Linked DNA regions of Homo sapiens: all the other regions are linked to region 2. Evidence: fine-mapped expression QTL. A gene starts in region 2. Each other region holds a variant in brackets. All regions are shown on one strand. Distances are between the middles of the regions.

What was found.
Region 1: its variant is fine-mapped to the expression of DDX31 in whole blood (TOPMed, PIP above 0.99).
Region 3: its variant is fine-mapped to the expression of DDX31 in lung (GTEx, PIP above 0.99). The same link has a PIP of 0.9 or more in unexposed skin.
Region 4: its variant is fine-mapped to the expression of DDX31 in amygdala (GTEx, PIP 0.97).

Annotation. Positions count from the first base shown.
Region 1 is chr9:132,610,805-132,618,906 of GRCh38, reverse strand. It overlaps DDX31 (DEAD-box helicase 31), which reads left to right. Exons shown (of 20, transcript NM_022779.9): 18 at 466-577; 19 at 6,652-6,820. Among named protein-coding and RNA genes, the nearest start is that of BARHL1, 32 kb to the right of the region's middle. RefSeq lists an enhancer at 7,350-8,082. The variant A/G (reference allele first, on the strand shown) is at 3,982.
Region 2 is chr9:132,665,926-132,674,013 of GRCh38, reverse strand. It overlaps DDX31 (DEAD-box helicase 31), which reads left to right and starts at 4,031. Exons shown (of 20, transcript NM_022779.9): 1 at 4,031-4,154. The coding sequence starts at 4,080. It overlaps GTF3C4 (general transcription factor IIIC subunit 4), which reads right to left and starts at 3,550. Exons shown (of 5, transcript NM_012204.4): 1 at 3,059-3,550. The coding sequence starts at 3,415. RefSeq lists enhancers at 398-447, 3,542-3,621, 3,307-4,174 and silencers at 3,262-3,391, 3,812-3,961.
Region 3 is chr9:133,050,900-133,058,999 of GRCh38, reverse strand. It overlaps GTF3C5 (general transcription factor IIIC subunit 5), which reads right to left. Exons shown (of 11, transcript NM_012087.4): 4 at 8,022-8,100; 5 at 6,836-6,940; 6 at 5,058-5,172; 7 at 4,512-4,592; 8 at 4,191-4,288; 9 at 2,906-2,988; 10 at 2,092-2,234; 11 at 497-1,186. The coding sequence ends at 1,020. LOC124902325 reads left to right here. Exons shown (of 2, transcript XM_047424377.1): 2 at 826-919. The coding sequence ends at 919. It overlaps MIR6877 (microRNA 6877), which reads right to left and starts at 7,004; the gene lies at 6,941-7,004. The variant G/C (reference allele first, on the strand shown) is at 3,712.
Region 4 is chr9:132,704,335-132,712,436 of GRCh38, reverse strand. No RefSeq gene overlaps it. Among named protein-coding and RNA genes, the nearest start is that of GTF3C4, 38 kb to the right of the region's middle. The variant C/T (reference allele first, on the strand shown) is at 3,525.

The DNA of each region.
Region 1 (8,102 bases), 55 kb after region 2:
TTTTAAAAGCAGAATGTTAGGCAGGTCACTGTGGAGTGCTCATGAAGAGAAATTGTCGGTGTTCCACTGATGCGCGTGAGGGAAAGGTGAAGATTCCTAGGAGATCCAAGACCCATTTGAAAACAGCTCATGTTCAGTGATGTTTTAAATGTCTGAATTGGACTTGGAAAATTCCAAAGTGTCTCCAATGGTCTTTGATTTTGAACATGCATGGTAAGAGGTCAGGAAGAAAAGTAAGTAAATAAGTAAACAGACCTGATGTTCTCTCTCATAAAGCCACCCTCATCCTTACTTGACTTTGACATCTCTATAGCTCCCTTTTTTCCTAGTAATATTGAAAGGATTACCCTTGTTGGCCCTAGGTGGTTACTGTGTGATTTTACTGTTATTAAATCTATTATAAACTGCTTCATTATTCCTGACCTTGACTCTATCTCTCCTTTAATCCTTCCGTCGCCCTCTCAGAAATCCCATGCTGTTGGCCCCCAGGAAATCCGAGAGCGAGCCACAGTCTTGCAGACGGTATTTGAAGATTACGTGCACTCCAGTGAGAGGAGGGTCTCCTGGGCAAAGAAAGGTCAGTCGATTTCCTAGGTGCTTGCGCAGTGGATAGCCCAGCAGAGTGCTCTCCCCCACCTTCACCCACATACCCCCAAACCGGTTGAGAGGCCAACATGGAGGTCCCTGCTCACCAGCCAAAGCCTTCAATCTCCATAATTCTGCAGGGTTTGGAAGCAGGCACGGAAGGCTTTAAAGTGATATTAAATGTTAATTTCATCCTTCCCCATGTTTTGCACAAATGAGGCTTTATCTTGGCTTATATCGGGACTAGAGTTTTGACCCAACAACTTGGATCTTAAGGATCTGTTTTCCTCTTTCTTTGAAAACCAGATAGAAGACATGTGACACGTTAGTAGAAATAGTTGTAGAGATGGAAATTAGAGATGAAGGCCAGAGCTGGAAATATTAGACCTAAGCAGTTCCTATTTGAAGGCACAAAGAAAAACGAGAAAGAACAGTACTGAGGAAGAGCCATAGACCATGAACCCAATTCCTAGGAAATTTATGAAAGAGAGAGGTGTTGACTTAATATTCAGACCCTTTGTTGGATAAGTTGGCTCCTGGGATCACCATACATTAGATGTAGACTTCACAGTTCACGTTGAGTAATAAGCAGTGTATGGCTGAAGGGGGTTTGTAATCACTGGTACTTTTTATCATGGGATGTCTTGGCCAGAGACTGACCATGTCTAATGAGACTTACTCCATGCTGGAGTATGCACAGGGTTTTTTTGTTAGTTGCCTGCTATTTTGAGAAGAGTGCCAGGCTGGCTTACCAATATCGGAACACTGTAGCATCCTTTCTTTTTATAAATAGAAATGCTTTAAAAACCATTCATTTGACAAATATTTATCAAATCGGGCACTATTCTGAGTGCTTGGAATGCATGCGAGATCAAAACAAAAATCCTTGCTTTGTGAAGCCAACATGTTAGTGGGGTGCAGGGGCAGCAGACAGTGAACATAATAAACATAACAGATTAGTCCATTTAAAGGTGACAAGAGCTATGGAATAAGTAGAAGGAGATGGGGGAGGTGAAGGGGTGACATAGCAGAGTGCATTTTTAATGGGGTCAGAGTGAGCCTCATTGTGTAGGTGATACTTGAGCAAAAACCTGAAGTGGGATGAGCCCCGTGGCTCTCTAAAGGAAGGGCATTCTGGGCAGTGGGAGCTGGTGCAGACGAGCTCGAGGAAGGCAGTGTGGGTGGAAAGGGGGTGCTGGCCAAGGCAGAATCACGTAGGACTTTGGGTCTTGGTCGGAATGAAGGGGGAGCAGAAGTGTGGGATCTGACTTAGGTTTGAAAGAGATCACCTGGCTGCTGTGTGAGAATAGACTCTAGCGGGGGCAAGTGTGAAAGCTGGGAGCCTGGCTGAGGAGCAATTGTGGTCACCAGAAAATATAGATGAAAAAATGGGTTAGTCAGCAAATATTGTCAAGGACCTGTTACATACCTTTAGCACATTATAATTGCAATTCTTGGTTGTCGTTAAAAATCAGAACCACACAAGGTAAAAGATGAAGTCCCCGTAATTGCCATTGTATATCCTTCTAGACTTTTCTCTAATAATATCCTGTCTTGGCATTTCCCTAAAGGGAATTCAACAATTCCCAAGGGTTTTCCTACCTTGCTACCTCTAGAGGAGTATTGCTCTGTGTCTCTCAAGAGGAATAGGGTCTTTGTCACAGTGTAACTTTACAGTTTGGACCTTTGATGAAAGTTAGGCAAATTCAGCTGGCTGTGCAGTACATAACAAGGTGTTGTGCTGCTGAATTCCAGGGCTGGTATCAAAGTTGCAGTGGAAAGAAATAAATCAAACCCACACTGTCACCTTCGATTTTGGTGTCAGTGATGCCTCAGATATTTTGGCAAGACTACAACTATTTCAAGGTGTCTCGGTCATCTGAGTGGAAGTTACAGTAATTCTTAAAGGATGTGGTTTTGGGTTTTCTTTCACTGTTATTACCATTGAACTTGTTAATACCATGAAACAAGCAGGGTCACTTGTCTTTTGTTTAAGGAATATTGGAACAGGGTCACTTCCCAATGTTTATGTACCATGAAGGAAATAAACGTATCATGTCTCTTATTTGCTAATCAATTTCCACACCAGATTGATAATGGGCTGGGACAACACCGCCTCTTACAGAGCTCAGTCACCCCATTTCAGACATAAGTCTCGCCACCATTCCTTCTCTCCTGTTTCTTAGGACTGAGTTTTGGAGGCTTGAGAGAGTATACACGTATTTGCCACCCTAAATGTATTGAATTTACTGCATAGGAACAGCCACTGCACCCCATAGGTGGAGACACTCTTTTGCATTTCAATCTGCATATGCAAATTCCCCACTATTGACTTGCTTCCCTTTTATGCCATTTCAGAACCCACCTCCTGAATAATTAACAAAGCAGCTGGCTTTTGCCTTGATGGCAGAAAACTAGTTAGAAACTGGGCCAAGTATGTATTTGTTTTCCTTTTGCATTTTTGGACCCAGTCATTGTTAATAACCAGCATTTAACTGTCAGTTTCCAGAAGCAGTTACCCCTTTTTTCCTCTGTTTTCTTGCATCATTTAGCTAGGGATTCAAGTTGTAAAACGAGTGGTAACATAAGTTTGAATTCCAGATTCCCGAACAAAAATCTTGGAAGCTAGAGTCCTCTGCCTGCAAATGACCATTGCTTCTGTGGCTTAATCCTCTCCATCTTCAGGTCTTCCTGCAGACCAGGAACTCCATGTAGGATTTATGCCTGTTTGGAAGGGATGCTTCTCAAAGTCTAGAAAACCCACACCAGTGATGACAAGTCATTCTTCTCCCCTCAGTGGGGTCAGAGCTAGGCTGGGCACTTTACCAAATGCTTTGTCTTGAAGAGAACAGCAGGGAACCTCCTTTTCCTCCATCCTTTCCGTAGTTGTCGCTGTAGGTGTTGGGTGGTCTTGAAGATGCGTGTGCCTTTATTCTGTACTGAAGGGTGCTCTTGTGGGAGTGGAGGTGGGGTTGGGAGGAGCAGAGATGATCTTCACCTTCCAGGCTGGAGGTTTGTTTATTTCTGTCTCCTTCATCTTACAAGTCATCATAAGATACCACTAGTTTCTGATCCAAATGTCCAGGAATGAAAAAGGACGATGTGTCCATGTGAGATACTTGAAAATAGATTTGCCCTAATTCAGGCACCTTAAGTAGTTGGCAAGAAATAGGAATCAGTGACTGCAAAGTGCTGAACTCTGGTGGCCTGTAGCTTCATCCGTCACCCCAAATAAATGTCTGCTTTCATTACTTCTCCACCTTCCGCTTGTGTGGGTCCCACAGCCCCTGTTCCTTCTGCACATTCTCGACGCTGCCAACATGAGCACTTCCTGCTCCTTGAAAGGTTCTGCAGACAGCTACTGCAGCGTCTTTGAAATTCCTGCTTCTCTGAATT[A/G]TCCAAACATGGGAGTCCATGCAAGTATGTGAGAACAACCAACTGTCGCTGTCCCCGGTGAGACAGGAGCCTTGAGGACAAGGAGGTTTAGTAAAAATATGCAGTGTGAAATGCTGCCTGGCCAGTTGTCTGGGGAGAAAACACTTCCTGCCACATCTTGGCAAACTCATTATCCCTGTAAAGCTGTTAGCTGGGCACCTACATCTCCTGGGACAGATGCTCTCAGTGCTCAGCTCATAGGATTGGTGGAGAGGAGGAGAGGAAGAGAGGTGACCAGGGTGGAAGCCCAGGGACTCATCTGCATACACAGAAGAGAGGTAGGAAATGAAGAGACCTAGAGCGGGATTTGGGTAACTGAGATTTTAAAAGTGCAGGCTCTTGGCATGGTTTCGGCTTGACTTGGTTTCGGTCTTGTCTTTTTTGAGACCAGAGTGAGTGTTGGGGGTTGGGGAAAGAAAGGTTGAGGAGAAGAGGCTTGAATCTCCTGGGTCGCGTAGCAGTAGAGCCTTTCCCTCTGAGGGCTTGGCTGTGGGGCTCTGTATCTAGTGGGGCTCTGTGTACTCCAAACAGTACAGACCATTTGAAGCGTTAAAGATTTTCTTTGAAAAAGTCCCTAGTTATTAAAAAGGGGAGTAAGCACAGATTTAAGAGTAGGGTACAGAGGAGTTGCCTTGGTTATTATTGCTCATCGATTGGGAAAAGGAGTTCACTTTACTCAGTAAATAGAGCTTTGATGGATTCCCCAGGATCCTTCCAGGAGCTGATCTGCTAAAATGACACTTTTTATTACTGTTCATAAACGCCAATCTCCAGGTGCTGCTGGGATATTATGTTTAAGCTGTGGGCAAACTTGCCAGTCCAGTGGCTCAACAAGGAGAGTGAGGAAGCGAAGGCTGGCATTCAGTGCTTGCCTCCATCAGACACCATCGGCTGGGCTCTGGCTCAGCTGGCAGAAGAGCAGGATTGGAGGTGAAGAGAGCAGTGACAGGGATGGCGGGGAGTGTTTGCAGGATGTCCCCCTCCTTCCTTGTTGGAGTGAGAAGCGGGTGGACACTTGATTTTCATTGTTACTTCCAGATATTCAATCTACGAGAATCTTTCCTCAAGGGAATGCCTAGTTAAGTAGACCAAAGCTCCACCCTCCTGGGAATGAGTCTGGCCTTTTTCTCAGGGAGGAGGGACCTACAACAAGGACCCCCTTTTCTGAATTTAATTTAATTTAGTTTTCCTTGAGACAGAGTTTTGCTCTTGTTGCCCAGGCTGGAGTGCGGTGGCACCATCTCTGCTAACTCCATCCTCAGCCTTCCAGGTTCAAGTGATTCTCCTGCCTCAGCCTCCTGAGTAGCCGGGATTACAGGCACCTGCCACCACATCCGGCTAATTTTTGCATTTTTAGTAGAGACAGGGTTTCACCATGTTGGCCAGTCTGGTCTCAAACTCCTGACCTCAGGTGATCCCCCCGACTTGGCCTCCCAAAGTGCTGGGATTACAGGCTTGAGCCACCGCGCCCGGCCGCTCTTCTTAATTTTAAAACGGCACTGAAACTTTCCTGACGTAGTGTTTGATGAATGTCCCTAAATTGTTGTCAGTCCTCAAGGGACTATTTTAGAGACTTAGTAGTTTTCTTTCTCCTTTAAACATTTGTTTCATTCCCTTTTTTACACATTCTTTGAGCAAGAAGCTCTGTATTGGTTAATCCTGGATACTTTTAGAATGAACTTGGTTTTAAAATCCCATGAGGAAGGCTGGGTGAGGTTGCTCACACTTGTATTCCCAAGCACTTTGAGAGGCTGAGGCGGGAGGACCACCTGAGGTCAGGAGTTCAAGACCAGCCTGGGCAACATAGTGAAACCCTGTCTCTACAAAAATAAAAATTTAAAAATTAGCCTGTAGTCTGAGGCACAAGGATTACTTGAACCCAGGAGCTTGAGGCTACAGTGAGGTATGATCACGTCACTGCACTCTAGTCTGGACAACATAGTGAGACCCCATCTCTTTAAAAAATTTTAAATTTAAAAAGTCCAGTGAGTACACAAAAAACTGGTATCAGGGATTGCCTATGGATAAGGGAGCTGGAGGTGGGGCTTGTGGTGAAGGGGGCATTGGTGGTAATGTCATTCATTCATAGTAAACATGACAGTCATAAGACAGCCTTTTGAACTTTGTAAATTTTGTAACAGACTAGCATGCATTAACTATTCAAAAGTAAGTAAAATTTAATTAGGAAAAATGTGTTAATATAAATGTCTAATGATTTTCTCATTTTCATAAGAAAACGATGTCCTGTGTTGATCATTTCTTAGTTTCTTCACCTATTCTCTCTTTTCACTCATTTACACAACAGACATCTACCGAGTGCCTGCTGGTACCAGGTGCTGTGCTGGGCCCCACCCTGTGGGATTGTTAGGAGCTGTGTGGTCAAATCTGATATTTTATCGGGCATATTCAAGTAATAATTGTGGCCCCCTGTAGTTTTTTTCTTTTTGTTGTTTAGGAATTGAAGAAATACACAGAAGTCTAGATTTTAGTTGTTTGTATATGTTGTAATTGTCCTGCTCATGTTTCGTTGCCTGGCAAGATAAAGTACAGAAGATAACCATTAGGCCGGGCACTTTGGAGCTTGGAGACCCCGGTCCTGACAGCTTCCCTCCCCGCTCTCTTTTCTTTCAGCTCTGCAGTCCTTCATCCAAGCCTACGCCACCTACCCCAGGGAGCTGAAGCACATCTTCCACGTCCGATCCCTCCACCTTGGGCATGTGGCGAAGAGCTTCGGACTAAGAGATGCCCCCAGGAATCTTAGTGCCTTGACTAGAAAGAAGAGGAAAGCACACGTGAAAAGGTAAGATGAGCTGAATTCGTCCCGTGACGGGGCTAGAGAGCTCCGTTCACATGATGTGATGTGCTAGCTGCCATGCTCACCGCAACTCTCTTCTCACTCATACCTGCCCTTCTCCCAATAAACAAGCACTTGGAATGAGAAGAAAGCCACCTCATCTTGCAGAAATTCAGGGGTGCCTCCTTTTGGGCCCAAATGTGGTGGGGTTCATAGGGCCCAAACGTAGTCGGAGCTTCAGTTGTGCTGCGGTCCGCCCTGGAAAGCATCCGAGATGTGTATGACACATTCTGGTGTGTTCTGTGTGACGAGGCCTGGGAGCATACCTTGTTCCAGTGAGATGGAAGGGCTGAGTGCCCAGCCTCAGATTCCAGGAGCTGCTGAAGCCCAGATCTCTAACAGGCTGGCTTTGGGGTCAGTGCTGGGCTCCTTGCTGCTGAGTTGCACCTCCAGTGGTGAGCGCTCATCAAGGCAAGAGCGGTGAGCCCTTCCCCTTTCCTCCCAAAAAGAGCCCTTTCCTCCCAAAAAGAGCATGTTCAGGACTTGTCCAGAGGTCCTGGGGAGAGGAAGGAGAGGGAGGGGTATTGCCCTGTTCGAGGCTGGGCTCTGAGTCTGTTTTCCCAGTGCTGAGATGATTTCCCTCAGCATGCTACATTTGTAAAAGGCCTTCTTCCTCTCCTCAAAGACGTTCTTTTAGTACCAGCCTCAGCCCTCACAGGAGCCAGAGCGCGTGAGGCCCTGTGAGCCACTCATGTCAGAACTTTGGGGCGGATGGTCTCATTGTTTATGTGGGAACGGTCCGTTGAACAAATGTTTGGGGCACAGAGACTTTTTTTCTCACCTGTCCTGATTTCTGGGTTCAATCCCAGAACGTTGTGGATGGTTAGTTTGCATTGTTTATCCTCCCTTTTCCACGTTAATTTACAAACGCCGCAGGCTCCCCCACTGACTCTGGGAATCTGCAGGCAGAACCACTCTGAGCTGCCTGTTCCTGCCCAGTGTCCAGCTTGCCTGTTCACCGGGAAGGACCACTCTGTGCTTCCTGTTCCCACACGATGTCTGGCTTCTCCGTTCACCGGGAAGTGTCAGTTATTCCATCAGTCTTGTCAGGGCCCCGTTTCTCTAGCCTGTCACGGCAAAGACAGAGGGACCACCCAGTGGAGGGAAGTGACCATTGGTCTTGCAGTCAGGGAAGTTGGATTGAAGTCGGCTCCGTTCTGATGTGAGTTTGGGGCCTTCCCTTTTCTTAACGTCTCCGAGCCTCGATCTCAACTACACTAGGGGGAGG
Region 2 (8,088 bases):
CTAACAATTGATGCACAATACAATTCGGTACACAAATATTATCAGAATTTGGAACTATACACAAATGTCTCACTAGATGAGTCACTAAATCAGTAGTCCAATGGGAAAAACAATTCTGACATTCTTAAATCACTATTTCATTGCTTTTCAGATTTATACTGTCCACCTTTATATCATACAATCTTATAAAACAGCTGATAATTAATGTCTGAACTATTACATAACTGCAGATTTTCCTGCAAATTCATAATCTAAATAACAGAATTATAGAGCAAAAGCTTCAAAGGTGTTTAGTACCTAGCTTTCTAACAGTGCTACACTAAAACTGTCATCTGCGCTGCAGACTGTCCACCATTTAGGTTAGCGCGAAGGCATGCTGCACGGCACCGAGCAGATTTAAATCCACAGACTGCCAATGGGTGGAGTCATCAAAGTGCTGACACAGACTTCTTTACATTCCTACCGTCACACCAGTTTTAACCCACAGAGGGCTCTTGTAGAACTGCAGGGTCAACTCAGCATTCATTCACTTCAATCAGTCTAAAAAGACTGCTAAATGACTGATGGTTTATGTGATGTGCATATTAAAAAAAAAACAACAGTACAGAAGGGGAAGATGTTACTAATTAATTTCATAGAAGCCATTTGTCAACTATAAGAGAGCTATATAAGGATTTCCTGTTACTAGTTAGCAGTTGTGGTAAATGTTAACTGAGGCAAAATGACAGTCAAAATTTTATCAGAATACTCATGTCCACAACCACGACATTAATCCAGACTCCTACTCCTTCATACCTGTATAACTGCATTATATTTTCTTTCTTTTTTTTTGAGACGGAGTCTGGCTCTGTCGCCCAGGCTGGAGTACAGTGGCGCAATCTTGGCTCATAGCAAGCTCCGCCTCCCGGATTCACGCCATTCTCCTGCCTCAGCCTCCCAGTAGCTAGGACTACAGGCGCCCGCCACCACGCCCGGCTAATTTTTTGTATTTTTAGTAGAAACGGGGTTTCACTGTGTTAGCCAGGATGGTCTCGATCTCCTGACCTCGTGATCCGCTCGCCTCGGCCTCCCAAAGTGCTGGGATTACAGGCGTGAGCCACCGCGCCCGGCCCAACTCATTATATTTTCACCTTGAGCATTTACAGCGTGCCAAGAACTGGGCCAAGTGATTATGTGTGTTTAATCTTCCAAAAAACCTAAACAACGCTTCATTATCCCCCTTTTATAGATAGGCCTATCTTGTGCCAAAGCCCAGTCTCTTCACTTTTATTTTACACTGATCACAACAATCATCTTCTTGCCTCTATCCAGTAATGTTCCTGAACCACAGCAGGTCACTCTATGCTAATGAAACTGTAACAGCATCTTAAAGACTTCCTAGATTGAAGCCAACTTCCTCATACCGACCTTCCAAGTCCACAAACTGGTCTCATCTTACTTTCTCGGACTCTCTAGAAGACCTACTTGAGCTCATGTACTGATCCGTCATTATACAAACAATAATTAATTATGTTCATGACTTAAACGTGTATGCACATGGGATGAATGCCTCATTCCTGCCGCCTGGAATGCCCTTTCCTTCCTTCCTCTTACAAACCAAACACTACCTTCTTTAGGACTGCTGCAGATTCACCACCAGATGACCTGCCCCATAAGTCTCTCCCCTTACTACTCCCTCCTTTCTTTACATTCTCTCTGCTAAGGTATTCGATGTCTACTATACTGACATACATACTTTCCTTGAGTTGCTGTGCGGATGAACATCCTTGGAAACAGTTAAATTCCTTTACAGCAGAAGATACACCTTTTAAATCACCTTTCTTCTGCCTCCCTCCTTTTGTATTTCTCAATTTCATAGGGTTGCATCTGTCTATCTGATTTGTTTACACTTGAACAAATGTGTTCATATCTTCTTCAAGAAGATCTTAGAGGAAGCTTAGTCATACAAGCTGACTAACAATCTAACAACAGAAAGATGTTTGAAACTTGAATTAAGTATGCTACAAAGTGATGAGGGTTATCTGCACCCTACCTATAGCTAATGACTCATATTTTCAATGGTTTTCCAAAATAAGAGTTTACGAACACATAAACATGTTCTCTATGTGCGGATACACATCTTTACAGTGCTTATCACTACCTGACAGGACCTTATCATTTGTGCTTGACTTGCCAAAGAATGTAAGCTTCATGAGGGCAGGGGTTCTGTTTTGTACACTGCTTTATTTCCAGAACATGGGGCAGCACCAAGCAGAATGGTATTCAAATATCTATTGAATGTATGAATATACACTGACAGTTCACATGTAAGCGTACACCTCTATCAAGGATATATGGAAAGTTTTTACACCTCTAAGCAACTAAAAGGAACGCTATGGCTTACTACTTGACCTTGCGCTTGAAGTTTAAGATAGGTAGTTGTTTCGAATCTTTATTTTCATTCAACATCCCAAAGATGTTTAGCTAGTAAAGAAAAACTAAAGTACAAACCCCGAGATCCAGTATTTACCCGTTTGCCCAAGGAGAGGCGAGGACCATTCATAATAAAGTCACTGAAACAATTAAGACAATGGATGGGACCAGTTTTTCTTTTCTGAAGCTAAAGAGGCGCGAGAGGAGGACACACACAGTAGACAAAGCCAGCCAAGAACCTCGGAAAGTCGGCCCCAAACAATAGCAGCAACGACAGAGGCAGGCCCCGGGTTGGATCTACAGGGGGTGGAGTCTCAGAAAGCACCATCGAGTAACCCGCTCCATGTGCGGGCCCGACGGAGGGGCGAAGGAGGGGTTCCTGGGACTCAACTCCGGGAAGCCCCCTGGGTGTGTACCTGTGTTTGCGGCGGCGGGTGACCTGGGGAAACAGGGTGCAGACAGCTGCAGAGCTTTTCTTTTTTTTTTTTTAAGCTGTGGTAACCCTGGCTGCTTAATAAATCCCCAGCGCTCGGTGCGAAGAGGGAAATCCCCGGACAGAGTGTGGGATCGGATTCCCCTGGGACGGATGATGCGGCCGCGAGAGGGGGACAGGGGAAGACCCCAGGGATGGCGGGGGATGACTTACTTTGAGGAGACAGCTGTTGAGCGGTGCGGGCACCGAGGTGCGGTGGATAACCAGGTCCTGGCCCGGGTTGTGCACGTCGCAGATGAGCTCCAGCACAGCGATGCTGCGGGCCGTGGACACAGACACGCGGTGGTCCTCGGACCAAGCCAGCGGTTCCAGGCCGCTCACCGCATACTGCAGCTTCACGGCCGGCTCCCGCCGAGTCACCATGAGGCGGAATGCAGCGCTGGGCCCCGGGGCCGCGTCCGCTGCTGGCTCCTTCCCGCCCGCCTCGCCGCCCCCCTCTCCCTCCTCCTCCCCAGACGGCGCAGGCCCGTCGTCCGCGGGCCCCACCCGGGCCTGGTCGGCCGTGTTCATCTTCTCTCAGGTGCAGAGGTCGGACGCCCTGGCGCTCCACGCAGTCGCGCGACCACCTCCCGGACCGCCGCCGCCACCCCCAGCGCCCTCCGCGGCGGTTTTCTCCCCTCAGGCCCCGAGCGCCGCCGAGCCAAGAAGGACCCCGCCGTTGCCAGGCAACGCGGCCCTACCAGGTGGCCAAGGAACTGCCTGTCCAGAAAAAGGACAGCGAGCGGGGAGCCCCGAGGACCCCCTTTTCCCTGCCCAGGGATTGAGCTCCAGAGCCTGTTAGGGAGCTACCCAGACAGGCTTTAGTTCCTAAAGTGCTGAGGAAACGCACGGGGCGGTAAAGGGGAGGCTCGTCGGTGAGATGGCGCCGGATCTCGCTTCTCAGAGGCATTCAGAGAGCTTCCCCAGCGTGAACTCTCGGCCGAATGTAATTTTGCCAGGCCGCGAGGGACGCAGAGAGGGGCTGCCACCAGGCGGGGGCACGCGCGGTAGTCTTGTCCCTACCCGCCCGGTGCCGCCGTCCCCGGCTCCCCTCGGGACGAGTCCGTACAGCTGGAGCCGTTCCGGACCCGGAAGGGGCGGTGGCGCAGGGTCCTCGCGCGTCCCACGTGGGGTCCCGGGCCCAGCAGTCTGCGCACCGGGCTCGCTGCTGCACCACGCGTCACCCACGCAGACCATGGCAGCCGCCGACGGTTCGCTCTTCGACAACCCCAGGACGTTCTCCAGACGTCCCCCAGCCCAGGCGAGTCGGGTGAGTTCTGACCCGGCTTCAGCTCCGTCCCCACCCGCGGCCCGGCTGTGGGCGCGCCGCGAGCTGCAGCCGTGCCTTGGAGTCGGGTTTCGAGTCATTCACGGAGTTAAGCGGGAGAAAGACACCGGGCAGCTTCGGGACAAGTTGCGCCGAAACACGTGTCTCTAACCGGAACACCACCCGCAGGGATGCGCCTGGAAGCGGGGAGTGGAGCGGTGTGGAGGGGCGGGGAGCTGGCTCCTGCGCCTAGAAAAGTAAAGGAAGGAATTAGAGGCTGTTTCCCGTGGAAGGTAGGACCTGAAGTTCCGGCGCAAGTCCCAGGCCAAAGCTTAACTTCTCTAAGCCAGTTTCCTCGACTGAGTGCGGACTAAGCTCTGATTTTTTTTTTTATCTTGCCCACATTCCTGTCTGGGAAGAGTCATGCCCTACAAACCATAAATTCTCATCAGATGGCTTTCATTTAACCCTATATATCGTGACTTACTTTCCAAACTGGCTCTGGCCTAACATTATGTGACAAAGAAGAAAGTTAAAATATTACCCCTAAACATGTTTCTTTGCCACATTTTGAAATGGCTTTGCAAAGCTGTTCTTTGGGGGGGGCGGGCGGGGTGGACATTTGCATCTGCAAAGAATCTCTATTAACATAGCTAGATCTTTTTCTTCCAGGCCCTCCCAATCCTAAAGAGATTAAGAGTCTACCACCTTTCAAAGATCTGAATAGGAAACACTTGTCTGTTGTCTCTAAGGGCAGCCACTAAAGACTTGAAAAGAACCTTGGTCTCCACAATCTTTTATCTTAACCTGAGCATTTTCTTTGTATCCATCCCAGGTGTTTAGACAAACTCAACCGTCAACTAGAAAATGTTTAAATTTACCTATAGCCTGGAAGCCCCCGCTTTGAGTTGTCCCACCTTTCTGGACAAAACCAGTGTATTTCTGAAATGTATTTGATGTCTCATGCCTCTCTAGAATGTATAAAACCAAGCCGCGGCCGGGCGCGGTGGCTCACGCCTGTAATCCCAGCACTTTGGGAGGCCGAGGCAGGCGGATCACGAGGTCAGGAGATCGAGACCATCCTGGCTAACAAGATGAAACCCCCGTCTCTACTAAAAATACAAAAAATTAGCTGGGCGTGGTGGTGGGCGCCTGTAGTCCCAGCTACTCGGGAGGCTGAGGCAGGAGAATGGCGTGAACCCAGGAGGCGGAGCTTGCAGTGAGCCGAGATCATGCCATTGCACTCCAGCCTGGGCAACAGAACGAGACTCCGTCTCAAAAAAAAAAAAAAAAGCTGCACCCCGACCACCTTGGGCACATGTTCTCAGGACCTCTCGAGGGCTGGATCATGGGCCATGGTCACTCATACTTGGCTCAGAATAAGTCTCTTCAGATATTTTTGAGTTTAACTCTTTTGGTCGCCATGAGGAAGGTTCGTTTGTTTCAGGAATGAGGACTGGCAACTAGGAGTTTTTTTGAAGAGCTTTCAAAAATGGGACAGATTTTCATCCCCATGCAATGGAGGGGGATAGGAAAATCGGTTTCATTGATATAATCCCATTGCTAGAGAGGGGTAAGATGCCCTAGAATTAACTTAAGCAGTAACTGAAAACTGGTTTCTAGGATAGTTGATTTGTCTCTTAGAAAAGAGGACTACAGGACAGAAAGACTGATTAAAATCATAAAGTGATCATCAAACTTTAGGATTTAGATGTTTGGCAGTAAGGAGTCCAGCTAGCCAAGTGTAGCTGCATCTGGGTGGAGCGGGGAGAAGGATAGAAGAGCCACTGGGAGCATGGGATTTGGAATAGGATACACTTGGGATTCGGATGCTGCCCTTGCTGCACACTAGCTCTGTGACCTTGGAGCAAGTCACTTAATCTTTCTGATTCTCACTTTTCCTATCTATAAAATGAGAACAATAATTTCTACTCCATAGAAGACTATTGTAAGGATTCATTGAGATAGTATACATGAAGACTATACGTTGTCTGGCCCATAGAAGCACTTAATAAATGCCAACAGTATAAAGTAGTTTTGGCTCCATTTTGGATAATAGATTGCTACATCAGGAGGTCAGTGGGGTGCTTGTGTCCTCTGCAGAGCCTGGTAACTAACACATAAGAAGCATTGAGTAAATACATATAGGCTACCTAGTTTTATGGTTATCAAAAGGGGATTAATTAATGCAGTGATGACAGGTGTCTGCGGTGGCCTTGTCTAGATCTACGTTTTTTGTTTTGTTTTGTTTTGTTTTTTTGAGATGGAGTCTCGCTCTGTCTCCCAGGCTGGAGTGCAGTGGCGCGATCTCTGCTCACTGCAAGCTCTGCCTCCTGAGTTCACACCATTCTCCTGCCTCAGCCTCTTGAGTAGCTGGGACTACAGGTGCCCACCACCACACCCGGCTAATTTTTTTGAATTTTTAATAGAGATGGGGTTTCACTGTGTGTTAGCCAGGATGGTCTCCATCTCCCGACCTTGTGATCTGCCCACCTCGGCCTCCCACAGTGCTGGGATTACAGGCGTGAGCCAGCCAGGCCTAGATCTACATTTTCATTGATGTCGTGAATGAGAATGATGGATATGCTGATGAGACTTGCCAGTAGCCTGAACTTGAGATGGGTAGCTAATATACTGGATTTAGAAAGACTAACAGCTTAAATTATGCTGTATCTAACACTATGCAGAAATTTTCTCTCTAAAAATACTTTCTGGGCTGGGCGAGGTGGCTCACACCTGTAATCTCATCACTTTGGGAGGCCGAGGCAGGCAGATCACTTGAGGTCAGGAGTTGGAGACCAGCCTGGCCAACACGGTGAAACCCCATCTCTACTAAAAATACAAAAAAAAGGCTTGGCGCAGTGGCTCACGCCTGTAATCCCAGCACTTTGGGAGGCCGAGGCCGGTGGATCACGAGGTCAGGAGATCGAGACCATCCTGGCTAACACAGTGAAACCCCGTCTCTATTAAAAATACAAAAAATTAGCCGGGTGTGGTGGCTGGTGGTGGGTGACTATAGTCCAAGCCACTCGGGAGGCTGAGGCAGGACAATGCTGTGAACCCAGGAGGCGGAGCTTGCAGTGAGCCGAGATTGCGCCACTGCACTCCAGCCTGGGCGACAGAGCGAGACTCTGTCTCAAAAAAAAAAAACAAAAACAAAAAACAAACACAAAAATAGCTGGGTGTGGTGGTGGGTGCCTGTGATCCCAGCCACTCGGGAGGCTGAGGCACGAGAATCACTTGAACCCAGGAACCAGTGGAGGTTGCAGTGAGCAGAGATCACTGCACTCCAGCTGGGGTGACAGTGTGAGACTGTCTCAAAACAAAAGCAAAACAAAAAAAAATTTCTGATATTAATACAAATTTATTATAGAAAATTAGGAAAAAAGATTTTTAAAAACCCACTCATAATTGCCATACTCAGACAATGCTTGTTGCCATTTTGGTGTATGTCCTTTTAGAGAACAACTCAAAATTGGAATCACTACACATGATGTTTTCTTTTTTTTTTTTAACTTATCAAAAATTAAGAATTATTATGAAGCTCTATTTCTTCAGACAGTCTGGAATAAGGTGCAAAACTGTACAAATTGACCAGCAAAGGAGAAAAGAGAGCCCAGAAGCAGACCAATACAAAAATGGAAATTTTATTCATGACCGAGATGACACTGCAAATTGCTTAGGAAAAGCTGACATTTTTAATAAGTGGCACTGGAACAATTGGTTGTGTGGTTGTGTGAATTTAAAAACTGAAATTGGAACCTTATCTCGCACTATGTATAAAAAACCAAATCCATGTGGATTAAGACTATACAAGGCAAAACTATAATGTTGAGCAGAAAGAGTAAGTTTCCAGCATACACATGTTTTCTAAAGCAAAGAGGATGCAGTTAATAAAAGGGATTATAGTATTGTTGTGAGGCCTCTAGAATGTAGA
Region 3 (8,100 bases), 380 kb before region 2:
AGAGGAGCAGGTTCAGCACCACACAGAAGCAACCAGCCAATCCAGAACAGGGCCATTCTCTGACAACTGACTGTTTCTTCAACAAATACTCGGCACGCACACAGGTTGGGAGGGAGTGCTGCTGCCGACTTGGGGAGACACAAGAGGTGCCTCAGCCAAGGGCAACATGGGGAGCGGGGCCAGGCAGGCAGGCTCGGTGGGCTCAGGACCCACTAGTTTCACACTGGGCAGCCACAGGACAGCAGGGCCCGTTTCCCATGACTTTGTCAAGAAGGTATTCATTTAGAGAAGAACTGACCCCAGGCCTGGAGTCCTCCTAGCTGCCCTCACCCAACCCGACCACATGTGAGGGGGGCACAGGCCAGCACTGCCAGCATGTCACTGAATGAATGAAGGAATGAATGAAGGAATATATGAAGGGACAAAGGGGGCCCAAGCCCCAAGGCAATAAGAAGACTCCCCTGCAGCGCCAACATTCACACCAAGAAACCAAGACTTCTCGGGAAACTGGTTTAATAAGGACAATTCCAGAGGGGCCTGGCTGTGGCCAAAGCTGTGCCAAACGGTTGGGATCCAGAGCTAAAGGCACTTCTTGCCACGTGAGACCATGGGCGAGGCTCCCCACGCTATCTCCACCACCACAGTCATGAGAGCCAAGCGAGACTGGCCTGTGGCCTGGGGCTCCACAGCTGCCCAGCTCCACCTCCGGCATTTACTGGTCTCATCCTGAGAGGCATTGGGTGCCCACTCACTGGCTGGATGCTGGGCTGGTTCATGGGTGGCAGAGCCAGGGTATACCCTTTGGGGATGTCCCTAACCCCTCAGGACCAGAGGCAGCACCAAGCAGCATGTCACAGCCAGTGCTAGGGTCAGCTGCACCCTTTGCTGGGACTCTAGCTCTCCTCAGAGGGCCTCCTAGGGCCATTCCGGGCACTGTGGGTGGCAATGGGGAGCCCCGGCTCCCTCATTAGGCCAGACACCAGTCTGGCCGGGTCAGGGAGGCCCAGCCTTGGGCCCTGTCACACGTAGTCCAGAATCTCTGTCTCCATTTCGTTTTCACTGCCGTCGGATGGCTTGAAGTCCTCCTCCTCCTCTTCCTCCTCCTCCTCATCCTCCTCGTCTTCCCCAGACTCGTACGTCAGCTGCTCTTTTCCGCCATCAGCCTTGGCTGAGCTGGAAAAGAGAGCTGGGGCCGGAGGAGACAAGGCCATGGGTGTCCCATGCAGGCTGCCGGGTGGCCCCAGAAAGGCCACCAGGCTCTGGGGAGCCTGTTTACTACTATAAGGGTCCGAGCTCGAGCTCTTAAGAAGCTGGTGGGTAAGTATGGGGTGGAGGCCCCCCAGGGAAGCTGTAGTTTGACGGGCACCCAGGGGAATCCTGCAGCAGGGGAGCCATGAGCAGCTTCAAGGGCCCATGGACCCTCAGGAGTGAACACACCATTTTCTCTGGGAAAGGGTCCACACCCTTGATTAGATTCCCAAAGGGGGCTGAATCTGGGTTCCAAGCAAGACCAAGAACCCCTGCTTCGGTCAGATCTGTGGGGCGTGGCTGGGTCCAGGATGCCTCCTCCCCAAGCCTGGGAGGAGTTCCCTGAGAGAGGGGGCCTCTTATAACTCCCCCGAGCCTCGTGAGACCCACAGCCTGGCAGGTGTTGCCCCCTTCACTTTCCCTGCAGCTGGCCCTCACTCCTGCCAGGGCTGCCTGGTTCCAGGAAGGGGCTGGGCCACACAGAACAGGAAGAAGACAGAGGCAGAGCCTGCGCATGCACAGCTGAAAGACATGGGCTGGTGTGAGGGCGTCAGGTGGAGGCCCCGATGGCAGTGCCAGGCTGCTGCACCCAGCCCCTCTGGGCTTGTCTCCTGCCCCGGACCGCAGGGCTGAGGGCCTCGGCTGAGGCAGCCTCTGGGCAGCTGGGGTGATGCCAGCACCTGGGCTGGGCTCTGGCTCACAATGTCCTCCTCCCACCAGGGCCAGGGGCAAGATGATGCCACCTGGGTGCCATTTCCCAGGAATGGGTCCCCTTAGGGACACCTCTGTCTCAAAGGAGATCACCAGGCATCCTGGACCCCCTTTACCCCAAGCGGCTCTTACCAGGCCTCTTGGAGCGGATGGTCTGCCGGATCATGAGGGACATGGTGTCCCTGAGCTCGTCGCTGGTCTTGGGGAGGCACCACCCATCCCGTTCTGTGCAGGAATTCTCTGCCCCGTCATTGCGGTGAATGATCTTCTGCAACCTGGGGGTGGGGAGAGGGTTGGGACATAAAGTCCCAGGGCGGGTCTCTGCTAAGAGATGCCAGTGTTGGTTTTTGCCAGAGGCAGAGCTGTACTGAGATCAAAGGCAGCCCCGTGAGCGAAGTCTACAGAGAGGAACTGGAAACACAAGCTGTGTGTTCCCAGCTGGGGCCCTAAACCTGTGTGCTCCCTGGACCGCCTCACACACATGAAGCTGGCCGTGTTACCACTGCACATGCTTCTGGTGAACCATGGCTTTCAGCAGAGTTCAAGATGTATTTGATGTGTTCCCATCTCCTCTCATCCCAGTGAGTGCCCTTTCCCTGCAATTCTTTAAACATCACTGAGAACAAGTCGATAAAAGGTTTCTGGGATCTGATGGGTCCTGGGATTGAGAACCACCTCATGGGGCCTTTATGTGGACAGTGGAAGAGGAGCAAGGACATAACAGTAAGAACTGTCTCTGCGCAGCTTGGAGCCACGGCTTTCTATAGGGCACCGCCTCTACGAGGGCCACCAGCATGCCAGGGCTCTCGGCAGCACCAAACTCCCAGACAGGCGAGTGCTCTTGCCGGAGATGAAGGCCGACGTGAAGTGGAAGAGTTCAGAGACCGCTTTGGTCCCTGGGTCCCACGGGCCCCCCTCAGTGTCTCAGGGCCCCTCCCATACGTACTCTTCCACATTCAAGTCGCATAACTGGTAGAACATCTGCCGATAGGGTGGCAAGGCCCCTTCCCGGAAGATGTAGACAGAGTCCTGGTGACAAAGGGGGAGAGAGACAGGGAAGGTGAGCCAGAGCCCTGGGGCTGCCAGTGTTGCAGACTCCATGTAGGCTCCCATGGGGTCTCTCCAGGGAGCTGGCTGGTCACCAGGAGCAGGTTGGGCAGACAGGCTGGAAGGCCACGGAGGAGTTGGGGAAAAAACAATGTCCAACTCCCCAGGAGGCTCTGGGAGAGGCAGAGGAGCACCCAGGCCCTCCTGGGGCCACTGGAAACGGTGAGCCCGCCCGTGCAGCAGGCCATGGCGCCCATGGCATGGGGCTGGCACTAGCCTTGTGCCGGGCTCTGCTCTCTGTGCCCTCCTGCACTCTGACCTTATCCCTCACCCACTGCTGCTAATTTGTCACCCTATGTCCCCCTATGGGCTGCCCTGACATCTTTTCTGGGAAAAGCAGGGCTTAGTGAGTGTTTGCTCTCTCCTTTCCGTACCCAGCCATGTAGTTCTAGAGTAAGGATAACGGCCTCCTAGGAGAGGCCTCGAGAAGGAAGGCCGCACAGGCTGTGGCATGATCGCCCCTCACTGGGAAGGCAGCAAAGGTCTAAAAAACCTAGAAAATAGGCAGGGCCCCAGACACTGGGGGACAGCAAGTCCCTCGCATCACCCGTCTCTGCTGCACTCATCTCTGCCACCCACTCCCTCAGCAGGTGATTCCACCGTGCGGGATGCCCCCTTCTCGGCCTCCCCCAGGGCTGTGGAGCG[G/C]CTTGCGGGAGCCTGAATGTGGGAACAGCTCTGGAAACCGCCAACCCCCGCTGGGCAACCGCACTGACGGAAACGTGAGCCAGTGAGGCTCCTGCCACAGCTGCAGCCCACATGGCCTGCTCTGGCTCTGTCCTCCTGTGTGTGCCCAATTCCGATCATTCCCGGAGTGGTCACGTGGCTCAGTGGGGGCCCAGGCTCCCAAAGGGCTCGAGAAGGACAACCACATGCAGCTGCTGGTGCCAGACTTCCCTGAGACTTGTCACCACCTCTTCGCCAGATGTCCCCAACACACACAGCCCTGGGGCTTTGCACCCGAGTTCTCACCCTCAGTGTCTGAAGGCTGACCTAAAAGGAAGCAAGGTGCCGAGGCCCCGGTGGGCAGAGCTGCCCTAATCACAGCCCCCCAGGTGTCACCCACAAGGTGCCCGGCCCCAAGAGGGAAGTCCTCCCCTCCATTCCTGGCCTCCAGGGGCGCCCACCTTGAGCTTGTACTTGCTGGAAGCTGGTTTCCGAGCACCACTCGTCCCCGACGGGCCCAGGCCCTGCTTCAGGTCATGCATGGTGACAAGCTGGCTGGCTGCGTGGGGACAACAGCAGTGCTTGGAATGTGCAGGGTGGGGAGGAGGTGTCTCTCCCAACCACCATGCCCTGCCCTCCTGCCAGCCCACCCCCTCCTAGGGGAGGAATGACCGGCAGAGCCCTGGAGTGACCCCCAGGAACCACCTCCCCGTCTGGGTCCAGGTGCCCCGCCTTCCTTGGCAAATCACTCATGACCCACAAAAGGCGCCTGGCACGCTTACATGTCTTCTTGACGGTGATGGGGAGGCTGTAGTTGTAGGTGCTGCGCTTTGCTTTGACCGGCAAGTCACTGGGGGCGTAACCTGTAGGCGAGGGCGGGCAAGTCAGGTGGGCGGGCACAGGGCCCGTCGGCACACAACACTGGCTTCACACTGGAGATGGGAGTTGGGTCCATGGGGCCAGCTCCTGAGAGGGCAACCCCAGACTGCCAAGCACGCCACTGCGGTCACCAACACATCTCAGCACTTCCCAGGCAGGGCGGGCACTGATGCTCTCACAAGTGCCTGGCCTGCATCACAGGACCATAGGGCACGTGGAGTCACTTAATGAGGGACTGTGGTTCAGAAACGGGCGGTCAGTGGTGGGGCCAGCACAGAACTAGGACTTTCGTTTCCACGCCATTCTGCATTCAAAAGAGTCTCAGCAACGGGGGCAAAAGGTTTTTTTATTCTTTCCAAATGAAAAGATTCTTACTACAAAAGAGAATGCTAGAAACTGAAAGATAAAGAGAGAGAAAGGCAGGAAGCAAAGCTTTCAGGAATTTTTACCGTGTTTCATTCCACAACGGATTCGGAAATCGAGGACTTGATAAATCTTGGCATCTGGGTTTTTTCGGGGGTCATACCCAAATCGAATCCATAGGCTGCGCCAGGGGCCTGTTATCTGGGACAGAAAAGTGGGGAAAATGTGAGGTGAGGTGAAGGCCCAGGTCCCTGGACGGGCCAGAGCCTACAGTGAGGCAGCAGAAGAGCTCAGGAGCTGGGGACAGGGCTCTGGATGCCCAGCCCTGCTCTGCCACATGCAGGCCCTGTCACCTTGGTGAGGGCACGTGGCCTTTCCAAACCTTGGTCTTCCTGTCAGATGGAGGGAAAAGGAGCACCCTTTCCTGTGGGTTTTTGTTTTTTGGGGGAGAGGGTCTCACTCTGTTGCCCAGGCTGAGTGCAGTGGCAAAATCACGGTTCACTGCAGCCTCAACCTCCTGGGCTCAAGTGATCCTCCTACCTCAGCCTCCCAAGTAGCTGGAACTACAGGCACGAGCCACCACACCCAGCTAATTTTTAATTTTTTTGTAGAGATGGGGTCTCATTATGTTGCCTAGGCTCGTCTCAAACTCCTGGATGCAAGCGATTCTCCCGCTTCAGCCTCCCGAAGTACCGGGATTCTAGGAGTGAGCCATCATGCCTGGCCTCCCATGGTTTTTCAGAGGATTAAATGAGATAGCGCCCGTGGAGCCTTTACCATGGTTCCTGGCACATATTAAGTGCCCAATGTTACTACTGGCCTAATCGATGAGACATCTTCTGTCCCTAAACGGAGCTTTTGAATGGCTTATGTCTAAAAAGCCAATGCCAGCCAGCCGCAGTGGCTCTCGCCTATAATCCCAGCATTTTGGGAGACCGAGACAGGCAGATCACTTGAGGTTAGGAGTTCGAGACCAGCCTGACCAACATGGCGAAACCCCATCTCTACTAAAAATGCAAAAAAAGAAAATTAGCTGGGCATGGTGGCGTGCGCCTGTACTCCCAGCTACTTAGGAGGCTGAGGCAGGAGAATCACTTGAATCCCAGAGGCGGAGGTTGCAGTGAGCAGAGATCACACCACTGCACTCCAGCCTGGGAGACAGAGTGAGACTCCATCTCAAAATAAATAAAATAAATAAAATAAAATAAAATGCCAACGCCAAGCAGCACAGGTCGCTCTCCTGAGCCGGAAGTCCAACAAGGCAGAAGAAATGAGTCTTTCTTGTGTCCTACTGCCTGTTGCAGACCCTCACAGTCATGTCTTACGCTGGCCTCCCCTAATGCTCTGTGAGGCCTGGCAGCGGGGAGGATCCCTTTCCAACCAGCACCTTTGGAACCTCAGTAATGACATGTGTCTTTACATGCTTGTGGATCAAAGGTGGATCTGCCTCCCACTGAACCCCACTCAACACAGGTAGAGGACGACATGGGGCCGCTGTGGTCAGGGGCTGGGTTCTGCAGCCCAACAGGCTGTGGAGGGCGCCCTGGACTCAGGGAGCTGAAACTTTTCTAGCTGGCTTTAATAAGCTGTCTTAGGGATGCTAGGATCGGGGGGCCAGGACAGGGGGGAAGGAAGGATGGGGGTGCCAGGACGGGGGAGGTGCTAGGTTGGGGGCAGGGCAGGAAGGATGAGGGCCAGGCCAGGGGTGGGTAGGAAGGATGGGCCAGGATGGGGGTGGGGCAGGAAGGATGGGGAGCCAGGATAGGGGGTTGGCTGCTCTTACTGTGGCTCTAAGACATCACAGCAGGGACCAGGGACCACATGGGTGGAAACCAAGGCAGGTGGGTGGGCAGCTGACACTTACCATGTAATAGGCTATGAAGGGAAGCAAGACCTTGAGCTTGTCTGGGTGGACGCTGATGTTGGCCTTGACAGCATTTCGGGACCAGATGGGACGGATGTCAAACAGCTGGGGAGGCCAAGGGCAGAGGCTGAGATGAGCACCAGCAGCTTCCACCCTTCGGCCCTGAACTCCCAACATGTTCTGGGCCCCAGCGGCCCCTCCAGAGAGGAGCTGGTAGAGGACAGGGGCTGGACACACAGGGCGTGGCCCTAGGACCTCCTGCTCTCACTAATTCATCCCTTCCCTCAGAAGCCTGGGCTGCATGCCCAGCCTGTGCCAAGTGCAGTTGTGGGGCTGGGTCTCTCAAACGATAAGAGACATGGTCGCTGTCCTCATAGAGCCCACAGCGCGGTGGGGAGTACGGCTCAGGGGGCACATGCTAGAGTCCCAGGGTCCCCATGCTGCCCCAATCTACAGAACAGGTGCCTGAGGTGGGACATCGTCAGGGCTGAAGGGGACAGCCTGGCCCGGGGAGGACTGCAAAGGTCAGTGTGGCCGGAGTGTAGAGGGCCAGGGGGCTGGGGCAGCGGGCCTCACGAGCCAATTCAGGTCAGGAATGTGGGCTGTGCCTGGTGGGCAATAAGGAGCCACTGACAGTGTGCCCCAGTGACTGCTGGAAATCAACAAGACATCCACGTGGTCTCCCACAGGCACACTGCGTAAGGGAAGCGCCGGGCTCCAGGTGGCAGTGGCCTGTGAACCTGATGCTCATGCCAGTGGGGACGCAGGACTCCACGGCACCCGCAAGCCCGGGGAAGGAGGGCTGCCTGGCAGCACGGTTCCAGTTCTAACGGTAAGAAAGTGCTGGGCCTGGCACACTAGGTGCCCCACTGGCTTGGCTGCAATGAGTGAATGGAAGAATAAGAGCTCAGTGGATCCCAGAGCTCCACGTTTATGTCACATCTGAACAACGCACGCATATTTTTCTTAAGAACTCTAAGAAGCATTTTCAACCTTGGGAATGTAGAACTTATACCGACACAGCCTTTAGACATGGCATCTGAAGGTGAGAAGTTCCCATGCACTAAGGAATGGGTAAAGGTCAGTGCAGCCAACCCCACAGCCAGGAACAGGGAGCAGCTGGGTAAACACGGGAAGCCAACAGAGAGGCTGGAGCCACCGGGGCCAGGCGCAGCGCAGGACTTGCCTTCCTCAGCTCCTCCTCCACCTTCCGGTCCACGGGGTTAGTGCAGACTCTCCTCCACGTCTGGGCTGCAGCCTCCAGT
Region 4 (8,102 bases), 38 kb before region 2:
ACGCCCAGCTGAGTTCTTTATATATTCTAAAGACAAGTCCTGTATCAGATATATGATTTGCAAATACTTTCTCCCGTTCCGTGGGTTGTCTTTTCACTTTCTTGATGATGCTGTTTGTAGTACAAAAGTTTTTAATTTGGATTGAGTCCAACATATCTATTTTTTCTGTCACGTGTACATTTGGTGTCTACAAAGGCTTTGCCTAACCCAGAGTCACAAAGATTTGCTCCTATGTTTTCTTCAGAGTTGTATAGTTCTAGCCTTACATGTAGGTCTGTGGTCCATTATGAGTTAACCTTTCTGTATGGTGTGAGGATGGAGTCCAGCTTCATTCTTTTGCATATGGGTATTCTAGCCACTCAAAGCATGTAATTTTGTCTCTGAGCAGCTCTCCAGGAGAGGCTGTCCCTAGGGCAATAGCTCAGCAGGTAAGAATTATCTGGAATGCTTGTTTAAAAAATAAGACTCAGGTCGGGCGTGGTGGCTCATGCCTGTAATCCCAACACTTTGGGAGGCTGAGGTGGGCAGATCACGAGATCAGGAGTTCAAGACCAGTCTGGCCAACATAGTGAAACCCCATCTCTACTAAAAATACAAAAAATTAGCCAGGCATGGTGGTGTGCGCCTGTAATCCCAGCTACTCAGGAGGCTGAGGCAGGAGAATCACGTGAACCCGGGAGGCGGAGTTTGCAGTGAGCTGAGATTACGCCATTGCACTCCGGCCTGGGTGACAGTGCAAGACTTTGTCTCAAAAATAAATAAATAAATAAAAAATAAAAAAGACTCAGCTGGGCACAGTGGCTCACACCTGTAATCCCAGCACTTTGGAAGGCCGAGGTGGGCAGATTACCTGAGATCAGGAGTTCGAGACCAGCCTGGCAGTATGGTGAAACTCTGTCTCTACAAAAATACAAAAAAAAAATTAGCCGGGCATGATGGCAGGTGCCTGTAATCCCAGCTACTCGGGAGGCTGAGACAGGAGAATCACTTAAACCTAGGAGGTGGAGGTTGCAGTGAGCTGAGATGGCACCATTGCACTCCAGCCTAGGCAACTCTGTCTTAAAATAAATAAATAAATAAATAAATAAATAAATAAATTTTAAATAAATTAAATAAAAAATAAGACTCCTGGGCTCTATCCCCAGAGATTCTGATTTAACAAGTTCAGGGCGGGGCCTGGAAATCTGTTTTTGTAGCAAACATCCCACCGTTGATCAAGTGTCTGCGGACCTGAACTTTGAGGATCTTTGCCTTTTGTGGAGGATGCTTATAGTTAGAACATGAAAATTCAAACATGGCTGAGCATGGTGGCTCACACCTGTAATTCCAGCACTTTGGGAGGCCAAGGCACATGGATCACTTGAGGCCAGGAGTTCAAGACCAGCCTGGCCAACATAGCAAAGCCCTGTCTCTATAAAAAATACAAAAATTAGCCAAATGTTGTGGCATGTGCCTGTAGTTCCAGCTACTCAGGAGGCTAAGGCAGAGAATTGCTTGAACCTGGGAGGCGGAGGTTGCAGTGAGCCGAGATTGTGCCACTGCACTCCAGCCTGGCCAACAGAGCGAGACTGTCAGAAGGGAAGGGGAAGGGGGAAGGAAGGAAGAAAGAAAGAAAATTCAAAAGTAACTGGTGACTTCCAGTTCTGACAACCTGCAGCTTAGAGATCCTGATTATGCCTCTTAAAACAAACCCCTAAAAATTCTGAATGAAATATGGTGACAGGGCTGGGGGCTGGTAACTATAACTGAGCTAGCAGGAAACATTCAGGGCCAAAAAGGACATGAACGCAGGAATCCAGACAGACGGGTGAAGGCTGAAGCCGGAGTTGCCGTACAAGTGTGTGTTGAGCCTGATGGCCCAGATCTTCAGTTAAAATTGTCCACACATGGAACACTGGAGGCAAAGCGCAGAGTCCCCCCACCCACCCAGGGAAGAAAGAGAGACTGGGAGGAAAGATTTGCAATGCATTTACCCAAACAGTATTAGTGTCCAGAATATGTGCACAACTCCTAAATATTACCAAGTCAAAAGCATTCAAATAAACAAATGGAAACATACACGAACAGGTATTTAACAGGAGAAAACACAAATGGTCAATTAACTACACAAAAAACGCTTAACCTCATTGGCGATCCAAGTTTTGCAAATTAAAAGTCACAATGAGATATGCCTGCACACCCACCACCAGAATTTAAAAGGATTGACAATACCAAGTGTTGGAGGGAACGTACAGCAGTGGGAACTCTTGTACAGTGCTGGTGGGAGTGGAAATTGGCTTAACTGCTTTGGAAAACTGTTAAGAAATTATCTGCCAAGGCTAAACATGCCTACCTTGTGACCCAGCAATTCCTCTCCTAGCATATACAAAACGAGTGCATAAGTATAGAAAGGGACATGAATAAGAATGTTAAAAGCAGTTTAATTCATGTTAGCCCCAAACTGGAAATGGCACAAGTGTCTATCAATTATGGTTTATTCATGCTATAAACTATTACATGACAATAAAAAACTCCTGATAAATGCCTCAATAGGGATGAATCTCGCAACCAGACACAAAAGAGCACACACTTTATGATTTGATTTATATGAGGTTCAAGAACAGATCAAACTAAGCACTGTTAATAGCAATCATCTCTAAGAGGGACATGCCTGAGAAGGGGCACAAGGACTCTAGGGTGATGTAAAGGTTCTGTATCGATCCAGGTAGCGGTTACACTCAAATCCTAAGCTGTGCACTTAAGTTTGTGGCCTTTATTGTACATGGTATATGTTAATGAAACCACTGAATACATTTGAGACAGGCTTAAGTAGCAATACACACACACATACACACACAACTGAAGAGAAAAATATTTAAAAGACATGAATGGGATTTTTGGTGTGTTTTAGAGGTGGTTTCGCTCTGTCACCCAGGCTGGAGTACAGTGGTGTGATCATAGCTCACTGCAGCCTCAAACTCCTGGGCTCACGTGCTTCTCCTGCCTTAGCCTCCCAAGCAGCTGGGAATACAGGTATGCACCACTGCACCCAACTATTTTTTTTTAAGAGATGGGGTCTTAAACACCTGGGATCAAGTGATCCTCCCACCTTAGCCTCCCAAAGGGCTGGGATTACAGGCGTGAGCCACTGCACCTGGCCCATGAATGGGCATTTTACAGAAGAAAACATGATTAGCCAATAAAATACATGACAAAAGCTCCACGTCATTAGTAATCAGGGAAATGCAGGTTCTAATGAGATACTGGTACTGCTCTGAGACTGGCAACAATTTGACAAATCTGGCCGCTTCTACTATTGACAGAATGGGGAGCAAGGGGAACTCATGAAGACTGTGATGAGGTGGACCAGGCACCACCACTCTAGGAGACAATCGGCGTCATCTGGTGAAGTGCAGCTGCGTGCCCTGGGAACGGGCCAGCCACGAGACGCCGCAGGTGCGCTACGGTGTGCGTCAGCGGCACCAGAGGAGCTCCTTCAGCCTGCAGATTTTGAGGCCCCCAGATTCTTGCCTTCCACGTGCAGA[C/T]GGGCCGAGGCACCACTTTGAGAAACAGTTTCCAAGGATGAAGCTGCAAGCAAGGAGGGGCATGGAGCCGAGGGACTCGCCGGGGGTCCCAGCTGGAGTCCCTGGATTGACTCGCCGCTACCTCTTGTACTTCCCCGGGGTGTTCCAGGGGCTCTCGGAGCGCCGTATTGAAATCGATGTCCTCGGTGAGGATCCTAAGCGGGGGACCCAGGGTGGTAGATGTTACGTTTTCTCGAGAAAGAACGTCAGAGATGTTCCTAATATTGTCGAAAGCCTCCCTCTTATCCCCAGTTTCCTTCGCATGTTTTAGGAGAAAAGAGGGAAGGGAGGAAAAGGGAACAAAACCTGAAGACGGACACACAACCACCTCTGTCGTTAGCTGTGGAGGGCTGGGCTGTGGTCCTGGTGGGAACATGGCCCTTCAGCACCTGGGGAGAGGAGCTCGGAGTTCTGGGCTTTCCTCTTCCTTTAAAAGCTGTGTTGGAGGAGTCTGGTCTGTGGTGAAACTAAGCATCCCGGTTTGCCTGGGACCGAGGGAGCTCCCAGACATGGGCATTCCACTTTTCAAAGCAGGCCGGTTCTGGGAGAGCCAGGATGAGTTGGTCACACCCTGCCAGTGTGAGCGGATCCTGGAACCACAGGCCAGCTACTTTCAGGGTGGAGACATGCAGCCAAGCCTGGGGCAGGGCACCGTTGCGGTCCTCTACGTACATGGATGCTAGAGGAAGAAGAAGGGAGGAAGGAAGGAAAAGGCAGCAGATCCACAAGCCCCTGCCTTCTGCAGGCTCCCTCCAGCGCCCGCTTTTTCTTTCTTTCTTTCTTTCTTTTTTTTTTTTTTTTTTGAGACGGTGTCTCACTCTGTCCCCAGGCTGGAGTGCAGTGACGCGATCTCGGCTCACTGCAACCTCCGCCTCCCGGGTTCAATAAATTCTCCGGCCTCAGCCTCCCGAATAGCTGAGATTACAGGCACCCACCACCACACCCAAGTAATTTTTGTATTTTTAGTAGAGACGGGGTTTCATTCACCATGTTGGCCAGGCTGGTCTTGAACTCCTGACCTCGTGATCCGCCCGCCTTGGCCTCCCAAAGTGCTGGGATTACAGGTAAGAACCACCGCACCTGGCCTGAGCACCCTCTTTTGACAAAGCTGAATATCGTGCCCACAGCCAAGAAGGATGGAGTCCAGCCAATGACAGCAGGTGGGGACTGAAGGGTGAATCTGGAGCTAAGTTAATCAATCAGTAAGCGGCTCATGTGTATTATTGATTTGTTCCTTTTTGTAGCTGAGCCACACACCGTTGTGTAGCTATTCTACATTTTGTTTCTATAGTCACCTATTGATGGATACTTGAGTTGTTTTTAGGTTTTGAGTATTGTGACTAAAACTGCTATGAATATTTGCACAATTTATTTTTGAGTATTCGTTTTGGATCCAGAAACCTTGCTAATGTCTCTTAATGCTAATAACTTATCAGTCGATTCTTTTATACTTTTTTCATACCCAATCATATTTTTTGTTTGTTTGTGACAGGGTCTCGCTCTGTCGCCCAGGCTGGAGTGCAATGGTGCCACTGTAGCTCACTGCAGCCTGAGCTCCTGGACTCAAGTGACCCTCCACCTCAGCCTCTCAAGTAGCTGGGACTACAGGTATGGACCACTATGCCTGGCTAATTTTTTTTTTTTTTTTTTTTTTTTGTGGAGATAGGATCTCCCTATGTTGCCCAGGCTACATATCATATTGACTGAGAATACGATATCTTTTTTCCAATTTTTTTTTTCTTTTTCCTAAGAGACAGGGTCTCGCTCAGTCTCCCAGGCTGGAGGGAGGTGGTGTGATCATGGTTCACTGCAGCCTCAAACTCCTGGCCTCAAGTGATGCTCCTGCCTCAGTCTCACAAAGCACTGGGATTACAGGTATGAGCCACGATGCCTGGCCCTTTTCCCCCAATCTTTATACCTTTCTCTCTCTCGCCTTATTGGAATGACCAGGACCTATAGTGCAATGTCGAGTAGAATAGATGTGTCTAGCTCCACTGGGTCTTCTGGGTAACATGGCCCAAGTGACAGGCCAGCTTGCATCCCAGCCTGGACCTGGAGTCCTCTCTTGCTACGGACCTCACACAAAGCTACCAGCCTTTTGAGTTATTCAGTAAGTGAGCCGGAGCTGGGTCCCTGGTAGAGGCTGCCAGAAGCTCTTTGCCTCTTTCTCAGTGGTAGGAAGTAAAAGGTGCAAGAACTTGTTTTTTGCCTTAAGGACAATGCCATGGCATGCCTTGGACCACTGGATCCATAAAAACTTCATTGTGATTACAGGACCCAGAATCATTGTAGTATTTTTCATCGACTTTCTGGCACACATATGCCCCACATTCAAGCAGTTGCCACTTTCCTGTTTCCCAAGTCCAGTTAGGATGCTGCCGTCGACATAACAGAGCAGCATGATGTTTTGTGGAGCGGAAAGACAAATGTCTTTGGATTATATTGTAATGAAGAGCAGACGAGTTTGGGTGGGGAAGAAATCGAGATCCAAAGGAACATACCCATTTATAAATATATGATCAACAAATGTAATTACTGATCAACAAAAAAATACCCTGAATGCCAGCAAGTGGCTAATGAGTTGTAGTGGATTTTTAGCTCTATTCAAGTGGAATCAAGAGGAGCTACAGTTGTTATACATCCTAGTTTCAGTAGCAGATATTGAATTTGCGTCAGTAGTTGTGTTGAGCTTGCTCTGACATCCTGTGTTTCTTTATATATTTATTTATTTATGAGACAGAGTCTCACTCCATTACCCGGGCTGGAGTGCAGTGGCACGATCTCACTGTAACCTCCACCTCCTGGGTTCAAGCAATTCTCCTGCCTCAGCTGCCTGAGTATCTGGGATTACAGGCATGCACCACCACCACACCTGGCTGATTTTTGCATTTTTAGTAAAGATGAGGTTTCACCATGTTGGCCAGGCTGGTCTTGAACTCCTGATCTCAAGTGATCTCCCCACCTTGACCTCCCAAAATGCTGGGATTACAGGTGTGAGCCACCGCGTCCAGCCTGACTGTCATAATTCTTTATCACGCTGGCTCTGACATTTTGGTCTTCATGCTGCATTACCAGTGCCTCTTATAGTCGCCCCTGCAGTGTGTCTGGTACATCCTATAACATCCCCCAGCAGGGTCAGGTTAGCCTCAGTTTCTTCACACAAGTTAACAGAACCCTGGGGCAAGACAGCAAATGTGAATTTCAGTCTTTCCTAGGAGATTGCAAACTGTTTTTGATCCTGTTCTCTGATGGGGATTGAAAATAATGCCTTTGCCTCATCAATGCAGCACACATCAGTTGCCAGGGCTGTGGGTATACTCTGGTGAAGACCTTATGTCTGGCACAACAGCTGCAGGTGGGGCCCCGGCTTGATTGCATTTATGGTAGCCCCCCTCCTCTGTCAGATCCGTCAGGTTGGACAGGGACCAGCCTGGCACATTAAGCAGGGATGTGACGGAGGCCACCACCTCCCCGATCTTTAAATCTTTGCAGGTGACATTGATCTTTAGGATTCCACCTGAGTTACAGCATTGCTCTGTTTTATTTATTCATTTTATTTTTTGAGACAGAGTTTCACTCTCATCACCCAGGCTGGAGTGCAGTGGTGCAATCTCGGCTCACTGCAACCTCCGCCTCCCAGGTTCAAGCAATTCTCCTGCCTCAGCCTCCCAAGTAGCTGGGACTACAGGTGTGCACCACCACACCCCGCTAATTTTCATATTTTTAGTAGAGATGGGGTTTTGCCATGTTGGCCAGGCTGGTCTCAATACTCTTCACGTCAGGTGATCCGCCCACCTCTGCCTCCCAAATTACTGGGATGACAGGCATGAGTCACCATGCCCGGCCTGCTCTGTTTTACTATCTTGGCTGTGGCAGAAGTTTTAGGAGCTTCCACTTGGCCCTTTCTCCACAGGTGAGAGAACCAGAATCCTGACTATGATAGTATCACATCAGAAGCATCAGACTTCTATAAATTTCATGTAGTCTTTAGAATACTCCCATTAATAACACATCCATACAAACATCACTTTAGAAAAAATTTAATGTAACCAAAATTATGACTGATAAAATCAGATTTTGTGATTTTATATAATTTTTGGAACATTTACATCAATAATACACCAATAAATATAACTGAAAGAAGATCTAGTTTCACTATCATTTGACAATGACCACATCAGCTTAATCATTTAGCATCTCTACAAGATAAGAAATACATCCTTTGAGGCTCTCCAGGGGCCCAACTGGAAAATCCCAAAGTTAACTTTAGGTCAGTAAGACTTAATTTAGAATTTTGATCCTGGGGAAACCTGTCAAAGATGTCAAAAAGTTTGAAATACTTGATCAAAACAGAATCACAGGTCACTGTAAAATAATAGTCATTTACTTAACCAGAGTGATAATTAAAAGAGTTCCAAAGCAACATAGAAAGTTAAATGGATGGAGGCTGGGTGCAGTGGCTCATGCCTGTAATCCCAGCACTTTGGGAGGCCAAGGTGGGCAGATCACTTGAGGTCAGGAGTTTGAGACCAGCCTGGT